2 separate regions of the Homo sapiens genome follow, and region 2 is linked to region 1. The links come from fine-mapping of genetic effects on gene expression. A gene starts in region 1. The other region holds a variant in brackets. All regions are shown on one strand. Distances are from middle to middle. Region 1 holds the start of SCIRT (stem cell inhibitory RNA transcript). Region 2 holds the start of LINC03040 (long intergenic non-protein coding RNA 3040).

Region 1 (9,108 bases):
GTGGCTGCTTCATTTCTGCAGGAAGGTGCAGGACAGAACTCAGACTGGTGGGCACCGTGCCAGCAGGCAGAGGAGGGAGCAAAGGCTCATTTGTCTGCCTTCGGAATTCTCCTTCCCATGCTGATGTCAAATCACAATTCAACAGATTCTTCATGGGGCACCTGCTGCACACAGAGGGACAGGAATCTTACTGAACACCTAGTATATGCCAGAGCCTACACACACAGTGGGCTACTCAACATTCACAACAACTCTGTACAGTAAGTACAAATATTGGTCCCAAGATACAGATTGGGAAACTGAGGCTTATACCAGTTATGTGTTGTGCCCAAGGTCACCAAGCTGGATGAGGACTGACGCCTGTCTGGAGCCTAAATTCTTTCTCCTACACCAGATTGACTTCCAGAGAGTTCTAGGATACAAAGCTGGCAACAGACTTTCTGCCACGTAGAGGGATATGGCAGGTGACAACCCTGTCTGGCTCTGCTAATCAGGATCCAGTAAGAAGCTCAAGACAGGTGGCCACTCTGCTGGTAGGCAGAGGAGGGAGCTGTGCTCCCTGGGGTGGGTAGAAGTAAGGTTTGTGTGGGTGCTGGGTGTTGGACACGGGCAGGCTGCAGACATAGCAGCAATGAGGGGAGACTCTCTCAACCTGCCCATGTCCTCCTCTGAGCAATCTCCCCGCCCCAGAATTATTTCAGTTTCCTCATCTGTCAGTTCTAGGGGTGGACTTCATTCATTCAATACTGTGTCCCTGACCTCTGCTCCCTGCCAGGCTCTGAACTAGTCATGTGTCAGGCTGGATACTTAGATGGACAAGACAAGCCATCCCCTGCCCACAGCTGCCCCACCTGAAGTCTAGGCCAGTGACCTCCGAAGTTTTTTTGATCATGTGCCCTTAGCAATAAAAAAGATTGTTGAGTACGCACCCGTCAGATGAGTATGTTTTTATATAGTTTACCTTGTAAAACACACTCACACTAAATGAAAAAAGGATTCGATGAAAAATAAATAGGCATTCTAAAACTTTCTTCCAGTACCCCTGAACCACGCACACATATGGCACTTGGAACCCAACTGCTCCAGGAGCTGGGAGGGTAGGGTCAGTCCAGCCATACTCAGGACGGATGTGTGGTCAGTGTTCCAGAACATCCTTGCCCACCCCTTTATGCCCTAGCAAAGGAAGGGAGAAACTTCAGATACAGCAGGTGGGAGTGTGGGCAGATGGGAAGCGTAAGCAGGTTTATGTCTGAGGAGGCAGACAAGAGGCAGGTTTTTATTTTAGACTGTGATGTTGAAAATTTTGTGATCACTTTTTACACTGTCCCAGGACATACAGAACCAAGACATAGTGTCCCAAGTAGTATCTAATTTCATATACTTTAGGTAGTTCTATTCCATTTCCAAAGGTTTAGAATACCGCCCCACCTCAACCCCCAGGAAACTGGGGAGCACTCCCTCCACTACACACACTTGGGACACGAAGGACAGACCCTGGTTGGGGAGGCACTTAGGTGTCCCTTCCTTAGGGGCTTTATCTCTCACTTCCCCTCCTGGGTTGGAGGCTCCTGTGACCCCCTCGCCTGGGCAGGTCCCCATGCAGGGTAGAGCACTTGGAGGCCTCTGTAAACATGGGTTACAGGAGAGAGGGGGCAAGAGGCCACAGCTGGGGTACATAAGGAAACCCCTCTGTGGGCCCCCTTACTCAGAGAAGTCTCAGGAGAAACCCTTTCCCCCACCCCCAGTCCTGGCACCAAGCTGGAGAAAGACAAAATGGCTTGTGAAGGCATCTGTCTGCCCTCCAGGGTGGCTGCCAGGGGGGCAGCCATGATGGCTGGCCTGGTGTGGGTGCCTTTGTGTGCCATGACTGGGTGTCTGTTTCTGCAGTCACTAGGCGCTTGTTCTGTGGGGTGAGGGGTGTGGGGGTGGGGGCACGGCCTATGGCAGGGCACGTACGTGAGGCTGGGCACGAAAAGCCTCACCCACCTCCTGCCAGGTACAACCAGCTGCTGGGGCCAACTGCCGACCGCCTCCTCCCTTCCCTGGGCACGGCCAGGCCGGGGGGCAAATGACTTGGCAGGCACCTCCCCTCAGTTGGACCCACTAGGGCAGGGCCGGCTCACCTGGGGCACAGGCAGGGCTCCTGGCTGGGTGGGTGTTCTGCCAATCCCTTCCCCAACTCCTAAAGTGGGAGGGTGGTGGTGAGGCCAGGGAAGGGGCGCAGGTCAGAGATATGCCCCCTCTCCTCTCCCAGACTGTGCATGGGTAAAGCAGGGCAGAGAGGGGCTGGTGGAGGGGCGGGAAGTTTCTCTGTTTAGGGCCAGGAAATGATTTCCATGCAAATGAGATGCAAACTCCTTAATGAGTTTGCAATTAGGAGACCAAGGCTGCCAGGCCGGGCAGCGCCTGCAGGTTTTATGAATGGGCCAGCGTAGGCGGGGGGGAGGGGGCGCGCCGGCCCGCCCCCACATTTCCCTGCCGCGGCGCCCGCGACATGCCGCGCCGCACGTTGCTGCCTCCAGGCCCCGCCGCGACCTGGCCCACCGCCAGCGGGTCAGCTGCTCCGGACGGCGCGGGAGGCTGCCGGCCAGAGTCCCCGCCACGCCGCCGGCCGGCGACGCAAAGGAGCCGACGACACTCCCCCTGGGGCCCGGCAGGGGCTCTGTCCTCGGGCCCCCTTTTTTCCCGGTTATTGGAATGATTTCCCGAAGCAGGAAGGCCAGAAGTTAGCCTTCAGGCCCCGTTGTATTTAAAATGGGCTGCCCTGGGACTTCACTGACCAAAGGAGGGGGCTGGGCCCCTAACTTGGGTGACAGCAATGACCTTGGGAGGGATGGAATTATACGTGACAGGAGAGGGACCAGTTCCCATCCCAGAGCTCCTTGCACCTCTCCAATTCCCTCATGCCAGTCCACACCTCCCTAACCTCAAAAGGCCTGTTCCCACCACCCCAGGGCACCTGCTTTTTCTGCAGAGCCACCCTAGTCCACTTTGGGTCTTGCTCTGACCTGGGGCCCAGGAGAGGGTCTCCTAAGTGGGTGGGTACACACAGGTTTGCTGTGGTCCAGAAGGAGGCTGACCAGAGTTTGAGAGTTTGAGCCCAGTTAGGTCACAGCCCCCTACCTCCTCCCCTCCCCTCTCCTCCCCCTGTCCCCGCCCTGCCCCATTGCTTTCAGAGTAAATTAACTAATTACCTCCAATTAAAGCACCTGGCTCTCTGTATCCTCCTAGGCCTTCAATCACTGCTTCTGGGAGTCCTCTTCATCCAGGCAGGGTCTGGAAGGGGGCCTGACCAGTAAGTTGGAAGTCAGTGAATCAATGAAGTGGGGCGGGGAAGACAGGATGGAGGAAGCCCACAGTGCCATTTACTGCTTGGGAGTGGTCCAGGCAGCCAGGACCTCTGACTTGGCCAGCTTGCAGACTGAGGTTGGGTCTGGGGACTTGGGCCCTAGGGGGGCCTGTGAAGGCTGGGAGCAGGAGCTGCCTTTGGAGGTTAAGTCCCTGGTGAAGGGCCTGTGCAGATGTGTGCAGATGTCAAGGCCCTGAGGGTGACCCTAGAAGCCCCTCAGCAGGAGAAGCAACTTGAGGGTCAGGTCCTAGAAGCTAGCAGTTCTTGGCACCTGCTGCCTCCCTCACCCAGCAGGCAGGGAGAGACTCCAAATGCCTGTAGGCCCAACCAGTCCCTCCTGTCTTTAACCCCAGCTGGCTCCTCCTGCTGCTCAGGAAGTGAAAACCCCTCCATTCTTTTCTCCGGGCCCCCTTGGTGGCCCCCAGGCACAGGCCCAACACTAGCTCTGCCCAGCACTGTCCTGGCCCACCCCACGTGTAGGACGTGATGGGGAGGATACCTGGTGGCAGGAGGCAGACTGATGGATTGTTGACCTGGGTCTCACCTCTGGACGAGCTGGCCATTCCTGGGGACTGGGCAGGGTCACGCCAGGCTGTGACTCAGGCCCCTGCCCCACCATGCCAGGGACCTGGGCTTGGGCCATCCTCTGTGTATGTGGGGTGGGGTGGAGCAGAGGTTTGTCAATTGGAGGCTTCTCTTTGGGGACACCTCTCACAGCCCCAGGGAGCCAGACTATGACTAGAAGGATCAGGGTTTCCATGGCTGCTCCTCCCCACCCACCACCCCAATAGAGGCTGACAGGAAGGACTCCCAAGCAGGGCACAGCAGCCATATGAGTTAGTGGGTGTATGAGCCATCCAGGACAGGGGTAGGGCTCAGCACACAGGAAGGGCCACTCCTGGGGTGTCCTGAGCCCCTATCTGCCAGCTCGGCTTGTCTCCCTAGGCCCATGGAAAGCTGGCTCAAAACTCCCCACCTCCAGGAAGGCGTCACCATGCCTCGCTTGTTTGTGGCCAGCCCAGCGCTGCTCTCAGCTCCCACTTTTCACTTGTTTCTCTGCCTCTTGTCCCCTTTCCCAGATCCACCAAGCGTCTATGGGCAGACTGTTTTTTCCTGCACTTCCTAGTGGCCAGCAGAGGGCGCCGCCAAAAGACTGAGGCCACCACGGAGGGAACAGGAGAATCGGCTTTTTGGGGTCTAGCCACTGTGCAGAGCCCAGGCGCGTGGGTCGGTGTCGGGTGTGTGTGTACGTCTGTGTGTGTAATGAAACTGGACGCCTTCCTTCCCGGCGATCTTGACTTAACCTGTCAGCAGAGGGCTTGAGGTTAGACCACAGGTTGAACCTAGGTGGCTGCTGGAGAGGTAAGCCCAGGTGGCTCTTGGCAGGAAGAGGAGGATGAGTGAGTTGCTCCCTTCTAGCAACCCAAATGGGAAGGGACAACGGAGGTTGCCAGCTTTCCTCCCTGACCCTGGAAGAAGGGTTGGGAGGGGTTGCACAGAATAGCTGGTGTCCCACCCTGTGGGAGGAACTGCTATGGACATCTGGGCCACATCTGGTTTCCTGGCAAGGCAGGGAGCTGGTCTGTTTGGAATTCTTGGTCCACCGCTTGGTGGTCCCTCACCATTACATTCTAGGAGGACCCTTTACAAACAGGTGTATAGGGCGCAGCCCTGTAATGCGAGTGAGTCCACAGCAACCTAGTCGTGGTCACACTCCTTTGGAAGTGGCCCTAGGGGCCTGGGCAGCAGCCTGCTCCTCTGCGCCACTCGACCTTTCTGTGGCCATGTTGGAGTCTGCATGCTGAGATGCTGCCCTTTCCCCTTGGAAATGCTGGGAAATGTGCTCTGGTGTCCATCCTGGCCATGCCTCTTCCTCCAGGTGGGGTAAGAGATGAAAAGAGGAGTTAGTCTGCAGTACCTCTTAGGGACCCCACCCCATGAAAGGCGGAGTGGGGAAGTGCTTGCTGTTGGGTCACCTCCACGAAAGCTTGGGAATGCGGTTGGGACGGGTAGCGGGAGGAGGGGTCAGCAGGAGTGGTTCTTTCTTGGGTCTGGATTCTGGGTTTTGGGGACGAGACAACACGGAGGAAACCCCTCTTGGTCGGCTTGGTTCCAGGAGGCTCAGGCCGGGAGATGGCCGTAATGGCCTCGCAGAAAGAAGCGGGAGCGGGGGAGGGGGAAGGCTGAGCATCGAGCCCACCCGGACTCTCCCTCTGTCCTCCCCGCTGCGGGGGCCCACCCCTTCGCCCCCACCCCTCTATCTCCAGGGCCGCCGCGGCCCCTCCCCGAGACCTGGGCGCCGCCTCCCCCTCCCCTCCTCCTCCCCCTCCCACCCAGCGCTGCAGCTGCTGCCGACGGACCATTCTGCACGTAGCGAATGGAGGAGACGCACAAGGGAGGCCTCAAGTGCGCGCGCGCGGGAGCCGGAGCGGCGCGGGCGGGGGAGCGGCTGCGGGCGCGCGTGCGCGTGCGGCGCCGGCTTTGATCGCGCGCGCCGAGCTCCGGAGCGCGCTGCTCTTCTGAGCGCCGGGGTTGGGGATGCTGGGCGGTGAGCCTCCGTACCCTCTCCACTCCGCGCACGCTCTGTTACCCCTCCAGCAAACCCCGCCTCCAGCCAGGACCCTTTTCAGTTGCCACCCCAATAGTACTGTCCTCTGCGCGTAGTAGGGTCTTCTGTTACGGTGTGCCGGGTGACGGATTGTACAGTCAGCCAGGTCCTGGGCTAGGGTTTCACAGAGTTCAGAACATGCCCGTGTTCATGACCATATAGTTTCACTTTTGCCCCAGGATCTCTCAGCCTGGAGGCCCTCACCCGCCTGCCTCTGCTGCACCTCAAACCTAGGCAAGCCCCATAAAGCCCCTTATAAGGGCTTGGGAAGAAAAAACAAAGGAGTGCTTTGACTTTTATTTCCTCTGGGATGGGGAACTCCCAAGGGAGTTCATTTCCCTTTCACCCCCTCCTATGTTACCTGCACAGCTCCTACTCCCTGGGGTGTCCAGGACTCTGCTGGGCCCTGCCCACACCACTGACAAAGGTGTGGTATGGTAAGCACAGAGTCTGCGTCCTGGGACAACCCAGGGAGTACAGGGAGGCTGTGTCAGGCTATGGCAGGCAGGGCCTTCATCTTGGAGGTGTCTCCTGACTTCCAGGGGCACTCTCTTCACTTCCTGAATCCCTGATCAGGAAGGGGATTGGCAAGTGGCTGGCCTGCCACCTGGGCCACTGGCAAGTGGGTGGCCGGGGGGGGGGGGCTGTCTTCCTTCCCTGGATGGGCTACGTTGGCACCTCATTCCACCTTCCTCACTGTGCATCCTGGCTCTCCTGGCTAGGTGGGCATTGGGCAAGACAGGTGACAGGGCCTTGCAAAGGGATGTCTGAATAGGGTCGGTGGTGTTTTGAACCTCCCTGTGGGAGTGAACTGAAGGGGACTGGTCTGTGGAATGTGCAGGTGGAGGTAGCTGAGAGCTCTTTGTCACGTACTAACTTAAACTGGCCCCAGTTGTTTGACCCCTCTGAGCCTCAGTTTTCTGTGTAATGGGAGTACAGCATTCACCCAGCGGGGCTGTTGAGGATTAAAATATAATCTGCCTATAACATGCCTCATATGTTGGAGGCATGTATGAGGTAAACCTTTTTTTATTATTGTGTTTGAACTGGCTGAAAGTCTGGGGACATTTCCCTCAGCTTTGTTTCCATGGATAGAGTGAATTCAAATCCCGGAGCTGGCAGCTCCTTGGAATTTGAAGGTGGGCTTTGAGAAAACTGTAAAGAGGCCAGTAACATGTCATGTTTATGTCACCATCCAAGAATGAACCATTTCATACTAGTTTTCCAGACATTAATATCTGAAACCTTAAAAAGAGATATTTTGGATAGGAATCACTAGTGGATATTACACGCTTTCCGGGCTTTTAATCAGAGGTTACAGAACATGTGAGTCTTCATGACTCAGGGTTGTGGTTACAAGGGTCCATCAGTATCCTGGTTGTAATACAGTGAAAATCCAAGGCCTTTTTTGGCCCCACACCAACGGCTCATTCCATGAAGGCTACATTTTCGTAGTTCTTGTGTCTACTTTTATAGTACTTTATCACTTCATCAACTCTCTCCGTATAAACTATCACTTCTGTTACCATCACTTTGCCTGCCTCCAGGGCAGACCACCAAACCCACCCTATTCTCAACTTGTTTCTGTTTGGCTGTGGGCTGAGATGTCCGAAAATCACATCTGTTGGAAGATGTGAAAAACAACGAGATCTTTTGAACTTGACAAATTATATTAAAGTTCATCTGGAGAAATAAACATGCAAAAAGAGCTTGGAAAATCCTGAAAAAGAAGTATTATAAGGGACGACTAGTGCTACTAAAATGTTGTAGAAAGCTCCAATAATAAAATAGTTGGGTACTGGCACAAGAACAGACAGGCAGATCAAAGGAGCAGAGTAGAGGCCAGACACACACCCGTGAACAAATGGAAATTAAATATATGATAAAATGACATTTTAGATCAGAGGAGAAAAGATGAATTATTCAATCAAATTGGACAACTGGTTAGCTGTTAAGGGGGAAAAAAAAGAAATCCAGCTCCCCACTTCATCTCTTATTCTGAAATAAATCCCGATGGAGTGAAGATTTAAATGTAAAAAGGAAACCATAAAATTACTAGAAGAAAACATCTGAAAGTCTAAAAGTGTATGTTCTTGGATTGGGGAAAGTTTGACACAAAACCTAGGAGTCACAAAGGGAAAGAATTTTTTAAAATTGGCTGTATTAAAATATGACGTAGGGTGTTGTGTTACATGCCTGTAGTCCCAGCTCCTTGGGAGGCTGAGGTGGGAGGATAACTTGAGCCCAGGAATTTGAGGCCAGCCTGGGCACCACAGTGAGACTCCATCTCTGAAAAAAAAATGTGTTTTTAATGTAATATCCTGAATTCTAAAGACAACCGTCTGGAAAAAATATTTTTAACATAGATGACCGATGAGTTTTTACAAGTCAATAAGGAAAATAAAAACGAATAGAAAAATGGGCAAAGCACATAAACCGGTAAGGGGATACTAATGGTTAACAAGCAGGTGAAAATGCTCACCCTCAGTCAAAATAGAAGAAATCAAAATGAAGACATGAGAAGATTCTCTTTTCGCCAATTTGATTGACAACAACTAAAATGGGCAACCCCTCACTGTGTGGACACAGACATCCTCAGAGCTGGGGGGGAGGACAGTTGCACCTGTGAAGGGGATTGGCAGTATACATGAGAAGAATTAATTCACAAACCATGGACTCGAGGGTTCCATATCTAGGAATTTATCAGATGCACTGTTATAAATGTCACAAGTGTTCAAAGTATACATACAAGTGTGTTCATTGCAGTTTTGCTTCCAAACCTGAAAAACTGGAAGCAACATTAAGTCCATTAATAGGGCACGGATTGGATATGTTATGATGCCTCCAAACACCAATAGTATGCAGTGGTTGAAAAGAGTGAGGTTGAGGTTGTGTGTTGATATTCACTAAGTAGAAAAGCAAGTGGCAAGACATTCCTTGGGTGGTGCTACTCCATGAAGGGTGTGCCCTCTGCCAGCATGGGCATGGAGCCTATTAGAAATCCAGAATCTTCAGCCAGTTGCAGTGGCTCATGCCTGTAATCCCAGCACTTTGGGAGGCCAAGGCAGAAGGATTGCTTGAGCCCAGGAGTTCAAGACCAGCCTGGGCAGCATGGCAAAACCTCTCTACAAAAAATTAGCCTGTAGTCCCA
Region 2 (9,108 bases), 74 kb after region 1:
AAATGGATTGTGTCCTCCCTCCCCCAGCACCCCCACAATCACCAGCCTCCTCCCTCTCCCTCCCCCTGTCCTTTAGAGTCTACAAGGACTGAGTTATTCTTAGTAAGTTTCATTCATCAAAGCGTGACAAATGGTGTCCTGGGAGGAATGCCTGGGCGCCATGGGGAGCCAGAGGGTGGGGTGGGGTGCAAATGTCCCATTTGAGGGGAGAGGCCATTGCCTTCAGGGAGCTCCAGATGGAGGGGGAGACAGCCCTGTCCTCATGGGAATCTGTCTGATGCAGAAGACACAAAGAACCTAGTCCCAGGGGAGACACAGTCCCTGTCCTTTGGGGGAGGCCCCAGTCTGAAGGGGGGAGACAGCCCTGCCCTCAGGGAGCTCCAGTCTGAGGGGAGATGCAGCCTCATCCTCAGGCAGCCCCAGTCTGAGGGGGACACAGCCCCATCTTCAGGGAGCTCCAGTCTGAGGGAGAAGCAGCCCTTTCTTCAGGGAGCCCCAGTCTGAGGGAGACACAGCCCCGTCCTCAGGGAGCCGCAGTCTGAGGGGAGACACAACGCTGTCCTGAGGGAGCCCCACTTTGAGGGAGACACGGCCCCATCTTCAGGGATTCCCAGTCTGAGGCAGACACAGCCCCGTCCTCAGGGAGCCCCAGTCTGAGGGGAGACACAGCCCTGACTCAGGGAGCCCCAGGCTGAGGGGAGACACAGCCCTGTCCTCAGGGAGCCCCAGTCGGAGGGGAGAAACAGCCCCATCCTCAGGGAGCCCCAGTCGGAGGGGAGAAACAGCCCCATCCTCAGGGAACCGTCAGTCTGAATCGGAGACACAGCCTTGCCCTCAGAGCGCTCCCTGTGATAGGAGATAATCCTCCCATATTCCCCCCTTCTCCAGCCCTTAGTGAAATCCCAGCCTGAAGGGAGAGATCCAATTTCCTGTTCTCAAGCAACCTCTAGTCTCATGGCAGAAAAATAGCTACCATCCCTGATGGAGAAGATAGGGTGCCACCCAAGTCACGGACTGAAACTCAAGATGACAAAAGGGAGTGCTGGAGGGGTATCCGGGAGCATGTGCAGCCACCACGGCCACTGCAAGTGGGGAGCCTGACGATGACAGAGAAGAGGGGGCTCCCAGAGACACTTGACTGGGCACCCTTACCAAGAAACATGCAGACCACAAAGGGGCAGCAATCATGGGGACTAAGATCCTGACGCTGAGGAAAAGGATGTAGGCACGGGCCCAGCGGGCCGGTCTAAATCAGAGGTCCACCTTCACTGGGAGGGCAGTCGGAGAACCCACATTGTCTGCAGACTCTCACATTCAACCTAAAACCCATGTACTCATTGCAAGCCAAACAAAACCTCACTGAAGGTAAAACGTGGCCCAAGGCCATGAGTTTGCAACACCCTGGACCTCAGGAAAGAATTGCTGATAGAGGAGAGCTCTGAGCCTGGTTTTGGGGGAAGGAGCTGATGGCCAAGCTACCCCTTTAATTCTGGCCTTCGGGCCTGGCTTCTATCTTCAGGGCCTCTCTCACCCTACCTGACATGGGAGGCCAGAGCCACCTCACTCCTCACCAGCTCCCCTATGGCGGCCACAGCTGGCCAGCAGGCGGGGCCTCCGTGTCTGTGGCGGGGATGTCACCTTTCTTCGCAGGAAGGTAATTTCCCCGCCAGGGGAGGGAGTCCGTCGTGCTGCTCATAAAGCCACTGTTAAACGAGCGGGTCTGGGAGTTCTGGCTGGGCGGACTTCCCTTCCCTTCTCCGTGCCTCAAGTGCCAAACGGGGGTACTGCTGCCCTGCGTGCCTTTGCCACTCCTCCCACTGAAGGCTAACTTTCCAATAGACCTCACTGTTTCTGTCAACGAAATAGGTCCCTGGCCCCTCCCCACTCTCCCAGTCTCTTCCAGCAGAGACCTTCCAGGACTGTAGGTTTAGGGGAGTGGAAGGGCCGGCTTCGGTCTCCCCAAGTTCTGCCCCCAGTGAGGCCTCATAGCTCTCCTGGGACTGAGGGGCAGTCCCAGAGGGCGGCAGGAGTTGGCAGCCAGTGGTCCTGGGGACCGCGAGGTGGGTGGGTGGAGGGTGGCGAAGGGAGGGTTCCGGGACCGGGGAGCGGCGTCTTAATTACGGCGCGTTGGCCCAGCGCCGCGGAGCGCCGCGGATGACAGCGGCGGTGGGTAATTAGAGCGCATTAGCCGTGCCCCTGCAATCCTGTAATTTCTTCTCGCGCTCGGGGTGTGTTGTAGGAGGCGAAGCGATGCCGGCTTGGCTGAGTCAGACTCTCGGAAGCCCAGGAGGGGACGCAGGGGGCGGCAGAGGCCGCGAAGAAGGGACTCCCGCCGGGGGAGGCGCAGACGCAGTCCTCTAGGAGTCACCTGTCCCGGGCTCCTCGGCGCGCGCGCCCCGTCGGCGGCGGGAGGTGGTGGGAAGGGGGCGTGACCTGCGTCTCCTCCCGCCGCCGCCGCCGCCGCCGCCGCCGCGCGCTCTACCGGCCCGCGAGTCCTCCGCGACATCCGGGCCAGCGTCTGCACCCAGCCACGTGTCCTGCCCCTGGTGCGCAGGTGGACTGGAAAAGAGGAAGGCAAACGCAGTGGCTAGGCGGAGACCTCCCAAATCCCACGTCTCCCCGAGAATCCCCGACGGGCTACAGACCTAGGGCAGCCATAAGAAAAAACGTCAGCTACATCTCGAGGGAGTGGGGTGGAGTGCGGGCGCTTGCTCTAGTCGAGCCCTGACATCGATTCTGCGGGGGCGGGGAGGAGTCGGCGCGGGGCTGGGGCTGGGAGGGGAGTTTATTTATTAGCCAGATTAGCCAGCATTAATGGGGGAGCGGTGGCGGCCGGCGGCAGCAGGGACATAGCTGGCATAGCTGGCATAGCGGCGGGGCCTCCTGCGGCGCGGGGCTCCGCGGCTTCAAAGGGGCTTAAAGAGGCCCTTGGTGGCACTGCCACGGCCCCGCGGGGGAGGGCGTGGGCGCGGGCGGCGGGGGAGAAGGCGGCCATTGTGCACCGAGGGATTAGGGCTCTGGCCTGGAAGGAATTTTAAACTGCCGCGAGCCGGAGCCCCAGGACTCTCCTCCTGCCCCACCCCTGCCCTCCGGAGCACGCTGAGGTGTTTACCTGCTTTCCTATGTCTGGGGTGGAGGGGGTGTCCTCTCTCCTCCCTCAAACTGGAGGCACCTAGGGTTACCAGATCTGGCAAATAAAAACACAAGACTTCCAGTTAAACTGGATACTTTAAATAGTGTAAGTCTGTCCCAAATATTGTATGGGACAGACTTATGCTAAAATATTATTCGTTGTTTATCTGATATTCAATTTAATTGGACGTCTTGTATTTTTTTTCCTGGCAGCCCTTGAGGCATTGAAATCTCTAATCCATGTCTGGAAACAGATTGATGGTTCCCGAAAGTCCAGTGGGTATGCCTCATTTGAGAGATCCCTAAGGGCAGGGTCGTGTCTCTCCCCTTACACTGGGAGTTTCCTGAAGCCCAGATACTGAGTTTCACCCTAAAGAAGGCAGCTCTGAGAGCACTATATGTGTCCCCCGTCAGACTGGGAGCTTCCTGAGGACAGGGGCTAAATTTCACCCATGAGAGTAACGCTTCAAGGTCAGTGTCTGTGACCTGTGACACTGGGGTTTCCTGAGGCATGGTCTGTCCGCTTCCTAGAGGGCAAGTCT[C/G]TCTCCTCCCTCACGTCTCACTCTCCCACCCCCACCCCACCCCAGGCTGCTGGAGGCTCCTCCTCCATTAGTGTTGCTTCCTGCCCATAGGGGGTGCTAGGGGCCCAGCGGACTGGCCTACGGATGGATGGGACCTGTTTATTGGGACTCGGGGCTTCAGTCCTTCGGGGTTGATGCACTTGAGAATAATGAGGGTGGGGTCCCCAACCTGTGAGGCTTGCTGAGGCAGTTGAGGGCCAGGTCTACTGGGGCCAGAGGCGGTGGCCAGCATGTGGGAGAAGCTCTGGGTGCTGGGTACCCACTGTTTCTTCCAGGAAGGGACAGTGTGGCCCTTGGTACAGAACATCCTGCCCACCTCCTCTCATAACCATTGAAGCCAAGCCCCAGTCCTCCACCAGCCTCTCCAGACCCCACTGCCTAACCTTTGCTTGTGCTGTTCTTTCTGCCAGAAACACTCTGTCTTCCTGCTTTGAGGACAGCTGAAGTCTTGCCACTTCTTCTGGATGCTCTGACCATCAGTAAGGTGGGCTGCTTGTGCCTGGGGGTCTTCTGGTGAAAAGAGCCCTCCATCTACTCCCTCCTTCCTCAACAACTTTGGCCACAGGGGCCAAAGAGGGGGCCAAGGTGGGGGAGGGGAGAGACAGGAACATTGGGGGAGCATAGGCAGAAGGGGAGTAAGAATAGGAACCTCCTTCCCCCCAACCCATCCCCCTGAAGCCCCTTCACAAGTCCCTTCATCCCCTCAGGGCCTCTGAACTCTTTCTCCTTGAAGCTGAGGGAAGCCCTGGAGAAGCGCTTTCCCACGGTCACAGCCTCAACAAACCCCTGCCCCCTTCTCCTTTGACTGCAGCCACCTCAGTCTCACCCTCCGCAGAATGCAGGCCCACTCCGTTGCTGAAGGGCCTCCTCCTTGGGCCAGGGCGCCTGCTTCTGCCAGTGGCATCATCACCCCACTCCTCAGCCGCCAGTCATCAGGTTGGCAATTAGCTACTTCCTCTCAGCTGCATGAGGCCACCAAACGTCACAGCCCCTCCCCTGGCCTGCCGCGGCGGGAGTGCTGGGGGCTGCCCCTACCCTTTGTAGTCAGTGCCAAGTCCTGGCTCAGTCCCCCTTCCCTACAACCTACTGAGTGCTAGGGTAATGAGCCTCCCATCTAGGGAGCTGAAAGCCTCGCTGCCTTCTCCCCGCTTCAAACCTCCTCCCCCATGTCACCCTATCCCATTGGGTGAGGACACTCCCGCTGCCTGGGTGGGGTGATGCCTGCTCAAGGGCACTAGCAGCCTGGGTGGGGCTTAAGACTCAGGTGTCTCTGTCCCCAGTCACAGGCGGTTTTCACCAGCCCCTTACCTGGGGCCCAGGAGTCTGAACTGAAGATGGTGGCAGTTATTTGGGAAGGGGAGAGAAATGGGGACTCATTCTACAGACCCCCAAACATGCAGGGGGCAGGCCCTTCATGAACACCCACATGGGCTCATTTGCCTGTGTCTAGGCACACACACGGTTACAATCTAGGCAATGTATGCTCCACTGCACTGTACCCACATGTGCCCCAGGTGGGCAAGTAAGCCCACTTGCCCAGATACCTCTCATGCCCACACATCCCTCCTCCAGGTGTGTGCATGCAAACTCACTGACATACAGTACTCAAAAAGGCAGTGAGCTTGCTGCCACACCAAAAACAAAACCGGGACCCTACAGAGGAATCTAGAAGCATGGGAGGGAAGGAGAGACCACCCCAACACTCGCTACCCCACAGACCAGGGAATCTTCCTGGGGAAGGATGGGAGGAAGTCTGCACTTCAGGGATATGTGTGGGGTACGCAGGTGGGCCGTGGTGGAAGCAGTTGTGTTGGAGTCTGGGTTGGGGGTGGAGGATGTGGATTTCCAGAGAGAATTGAAAAATTCCAACACATATAAACAAAGGCATGTGATCTTAGGCAGATCACTTAACTTCTTGGGGGCCCCAGTGACTGCATCTGTAAAATGGGAATAATGAGAACACCATTTAAACTTGGTTGTCAAATTTATTTTATTTTTATTTATTTATTTATTTTTAGAGACACGGTCTGACTTTGTTACCCCGGCTGGAGTGCAGTGGTGCAATCATGGCTCACTGCAGCCTTAACCTCCTGGGCTCAAGTGATCCTCTCGCCAAGGCTAGGATAAGTAGCTAGGACTACAGATGCGCCCCATCACGCCCAGCTAATTTTACAACTTCTGTAGAGATGGAGTGTTGCTGGGTTGCCCAGGCTGGTCTTGAATTCCTGGGCTCAAGCGATCCTCCTGTGTCCGGAATTGGTGGGTTCTTGGTCTCACTGACTTCAAGAATGAAGCCGCGGACCCTCGCGGTGAGTGTTACAGTTCTTAAAGACAGCGTGTCCAGAGTTTGTTCCTTCTGATGTTCAGATGTGTTCAGAGTTTCTTCCTTCTGGTGGGTTCGTGGTCTCGCTGGCTTAGGGGTGAAGCTGCAGACCTTCGCGGTGAGTGTTACAGTTCTTAGGGCGGCGCGTCTGGAGTTGTCTGTTCCTCCCGGTGGGCTCGTAGTCTCGCTGGCTTCAGGAGTGAAGCTGCAGACCTTCGCGGTGAGTGTTACAGCTCATAAAGGCAGCGTGGACCTACAGAGTGAGCAGTAGCAAGATTTATTGCAAAGAGCAAAAGAACAAAGCTTCCACAGCGTGGAAAGGGATCCCAGCGGGTTGCCACTGCGGGCTGGGGCAGCCTGCTTTTATTCTCTTATCTGGCCCCACCCACATCCTGCTGATTGGTAGAGCCCAGTGGTCTGTTTTGACAGGGTGCTGATTGGTGCGTTTACAATCCGAGCTAGACACAAAGGTTCACCATGTCCCCACTAGATTAGCTAGATACAGAGTGTTGACACAAAGGTTCTCCAAGTCCCCACCAGAGTAGCTAGATACAGTGTCGATTGGTGCATTCACAGTGCTGATTGGTGTGTTTACAAACCTTGAGCTAGATACAGAGTGCCAATTGGTGTATTTACAATCCCTGAGCTAGACATAAAGGTTCTCCACGTCCCCACCAGACTCAGGAGCCCAGCTGGCTACACCCAGTGGATCCTGCACCAGGGCTGCAGGTGGAGCTGCCTGCCAGTCCGGCGCTGTGCGCCCGCACTCCTCAGCCCTTGGGTGGTGGATGGGACTGGGCGCCATGGAGCAGGGGGTGGCGCTCGTCGGGGAGGCTCTGGCCGCACAGGAGCCCACGGAGCCAGGAGGAGTCTCAGGCATGGCAGGCTGCAGGTCCCGAGCCCTGCCCCGCGGGAAGGCAGCTAAGGCCCGGGGAGAAATTGAGCACAGCAGCTGCTGGCCCAGGTGCTAAGCCCCTCACTGCCCAGGGCCGGTGGGGCCTGGCGGGCTGCTCCGAGTGCGGGGTCTGCCGAGCCCACGCCCACCCGGAACTTGCGCTGGCCCGCAAGCACCGCGCGCAGCCCCGGTTCCCGCCCGCCCCTCTCCCTCCACACTTCCTCGCAAGCTGAGGGAGCCGGCTCCGGCCTTGGCCAGCCCAGAAAGGGGCTTCCACAGTGCAGCGGCGGGCTGAAGGGCTCCTCAAGTGTGGCCAAAGTGGGAGCCCAGGCAGAGGAGGCGCCGAGAGTGAGCGAGGGCTGTGAGGACTGCCAGCACCCTGTCACCTCTCACTCCCCCAAAATACTGGGCTTATAGGCAAAAGCCACCACACCTGGCCTGATTGTGAAATTTAAATGAGATAACCCGGCTCAGAGCAGGCCCTGAGTTGACATTACTATGAGGAGACCTTCCCAATATCCTGTCGCTTGATGGTGGGCTTGCCTAAGAGAGCTGCCCTAGGGAGATAAGAAGCCCTCATTCTGGACCTTACCTGACTGCTACATGCTCCCCCCGTTTTTCTTTGATTTCTGGGGTCCAGCCCCAGCCAAGGTGCAAGATACAAGTTGAGAGGCATGGCAGGGCATAGGGATGGGTGATTGGGTGCTACTTTGGACTAGGCTGGGGGTGGGTCTAGGGAAGGACTGGCTACCTGCCCCGCCCCTACCTGGCTGGCACAACAGGTAACTGAGTGCTGACTTTTATTCCTGGGAAGGGAGGAGTCAGGCAGTGCCTCTCTGTCCAGGCAAATGGGATGCAAGGGTCAGGAGCATGGGTGGAGAGGGTTTCTAGGAATATTCCTGAAAGAAGACCTGGGAACAGGCACTGCTGTCAGGAGCTACTGCCTGGGCCTACCAGCCTGTATCCCAGCTCAACAAACATCCTTGTCCTTGTTTCTCAGAGTCTGTATCCACCAGCTACTCTTCCAGATTCATGAGGCAAGGCCTGCCTGCTCACCTGGCTGGCCCCAAGCACCTCTTCAACCTGTTGCCACCGTCCTGCCTTGCTGCCCTTCTCAGCTCATCCAGCAGGGTCTCCAAGTCGTGGAAACAGAAGCACATATACACACATGCTCATATGTACATGCCCACAGTCACATAAGCACACCGAGAAACACCATCGCAGACATGTTCTCACAAGCACATGTGCATAACACTCACTACCCCTCACGCGTATACACATTAATACACACACTCATGCACACTCAGTCTTACACACACAGACACACAGCCATAATCACTGTTGTTGGTTGAATTGTGCCCCCCCATCCCCACCAAAAAGATAAGTTGGAGTCCTAACCCCCAGTACCTGGGGATGTGACCGTAGTTGGAAATAGGGTGTTTGTAGATGTAATCAAATTAAGATGAGATCTTACTGGATTAGAGTGGGCCTTAAATCCAGTGACTGGTGTCCTTATAAGGAGAAAAAGATTTGAAAACAGAGACATGGAGACACAGAGCAGAAGGCCATGTGATGATGGAGTCAGAGATTGGAGTGATGCAGCTATGAGCCGAGAAATACCAAGGTGCTGGCAGCCCCCAGAAGCAAGGAGAGAGGCAAGGAACAATCTCCATCAGAGCCTCTGGAAGAAACAGACTCTGCCAACACCTTGATTTCAGACTTTTGGCCTCCTTCACTGTGCGAGAATACGTTTCTGTTGTTTTAAACTACTGAGTCACCAAGTCTGTGGTACTGTGTTATGGCAGCCCCGGCAACAAATCCAATCACACACACACACACACACACACACACACACACACACACACACACACACACAGCTGGCTCCAGGCTCAGTGATGAGCTCAGAGGAGTTCCCCTTGGGAGCTGCTCTTTCTCTGTCTTCCTTCCTTAGTGATTGGTCCAGTGGATCCACAAAAGCTCATGGCCCAGAGCAGGAGCCCAGTCATTTTTAATTCCTCTTCCCTGGAGTTCTTAACCATGCGTTGCCCTCAAAATCTGCTCTCAAGATTTGGGTTGCCATATTTAGGAGCACCAGAAAACATACAGGAATGCTGTGTCTGCTTGCATCATATTAATTAAAAACTGGAAATAACCTAAATGTCCCAGAATAGGTACAT

Evidence for each region. PIP is the estimated chance that this variant, and not a neighbour inherited with it, causes the effect.
Region 2: its variant is fine-mapped to the expression of SCIRT in thyroid (GTEx, PIP above 0.99).

Annotation. Positions count from the first base shown.
Region 1 is chr6:44,070,100-44,079,207 of GRCh38, reverse strand. SCIRT (stem cell inhibitory RNA transcript) reads left to right here and starts at 4,556. Exons shown (of 5, transcript NR_125864.1): 1 at 4,556-4,711. RefSeq lists enhancers at 3,476-3,545, 4,666-4,925, 5,946-6,045, 6,086-6,145 and silencers at 5,436-5,695, 5,786-5,865.
Region 2 is chr6:43,996,132-44,005,239 of GRCh38, reverse strand. SCIRT (stem cell inhibitory RNA transcript) reads left to right here. Exons shown (of 5, transcript NR_125864.1): 2 at 4,124-4,197; 3 at 4,525-4,649; 4 at 5,732-6,022; 5 at 7,932-9,108. LINC03040 (long intergenic non-protein coding RNA 3040) reads right to left here and starts at 4,655. Exons shown (of 3, transcript NR_160956.1): 1 at 4,540-4,655; 2 at 3,113-3,187; 3 at 1-2,559. LOC124901321 (a long non-coding RNA gene) reads right to left here. Exons shown (of 2, transcript XR_007059591.1): 2 at 5,686-6,289. RefSeq lists enhancers at 27-658, 4,399-4,548 and a silencer at 2,307-2,476. The variant C/G (reference allele first, on the strand shown) is at 3,675.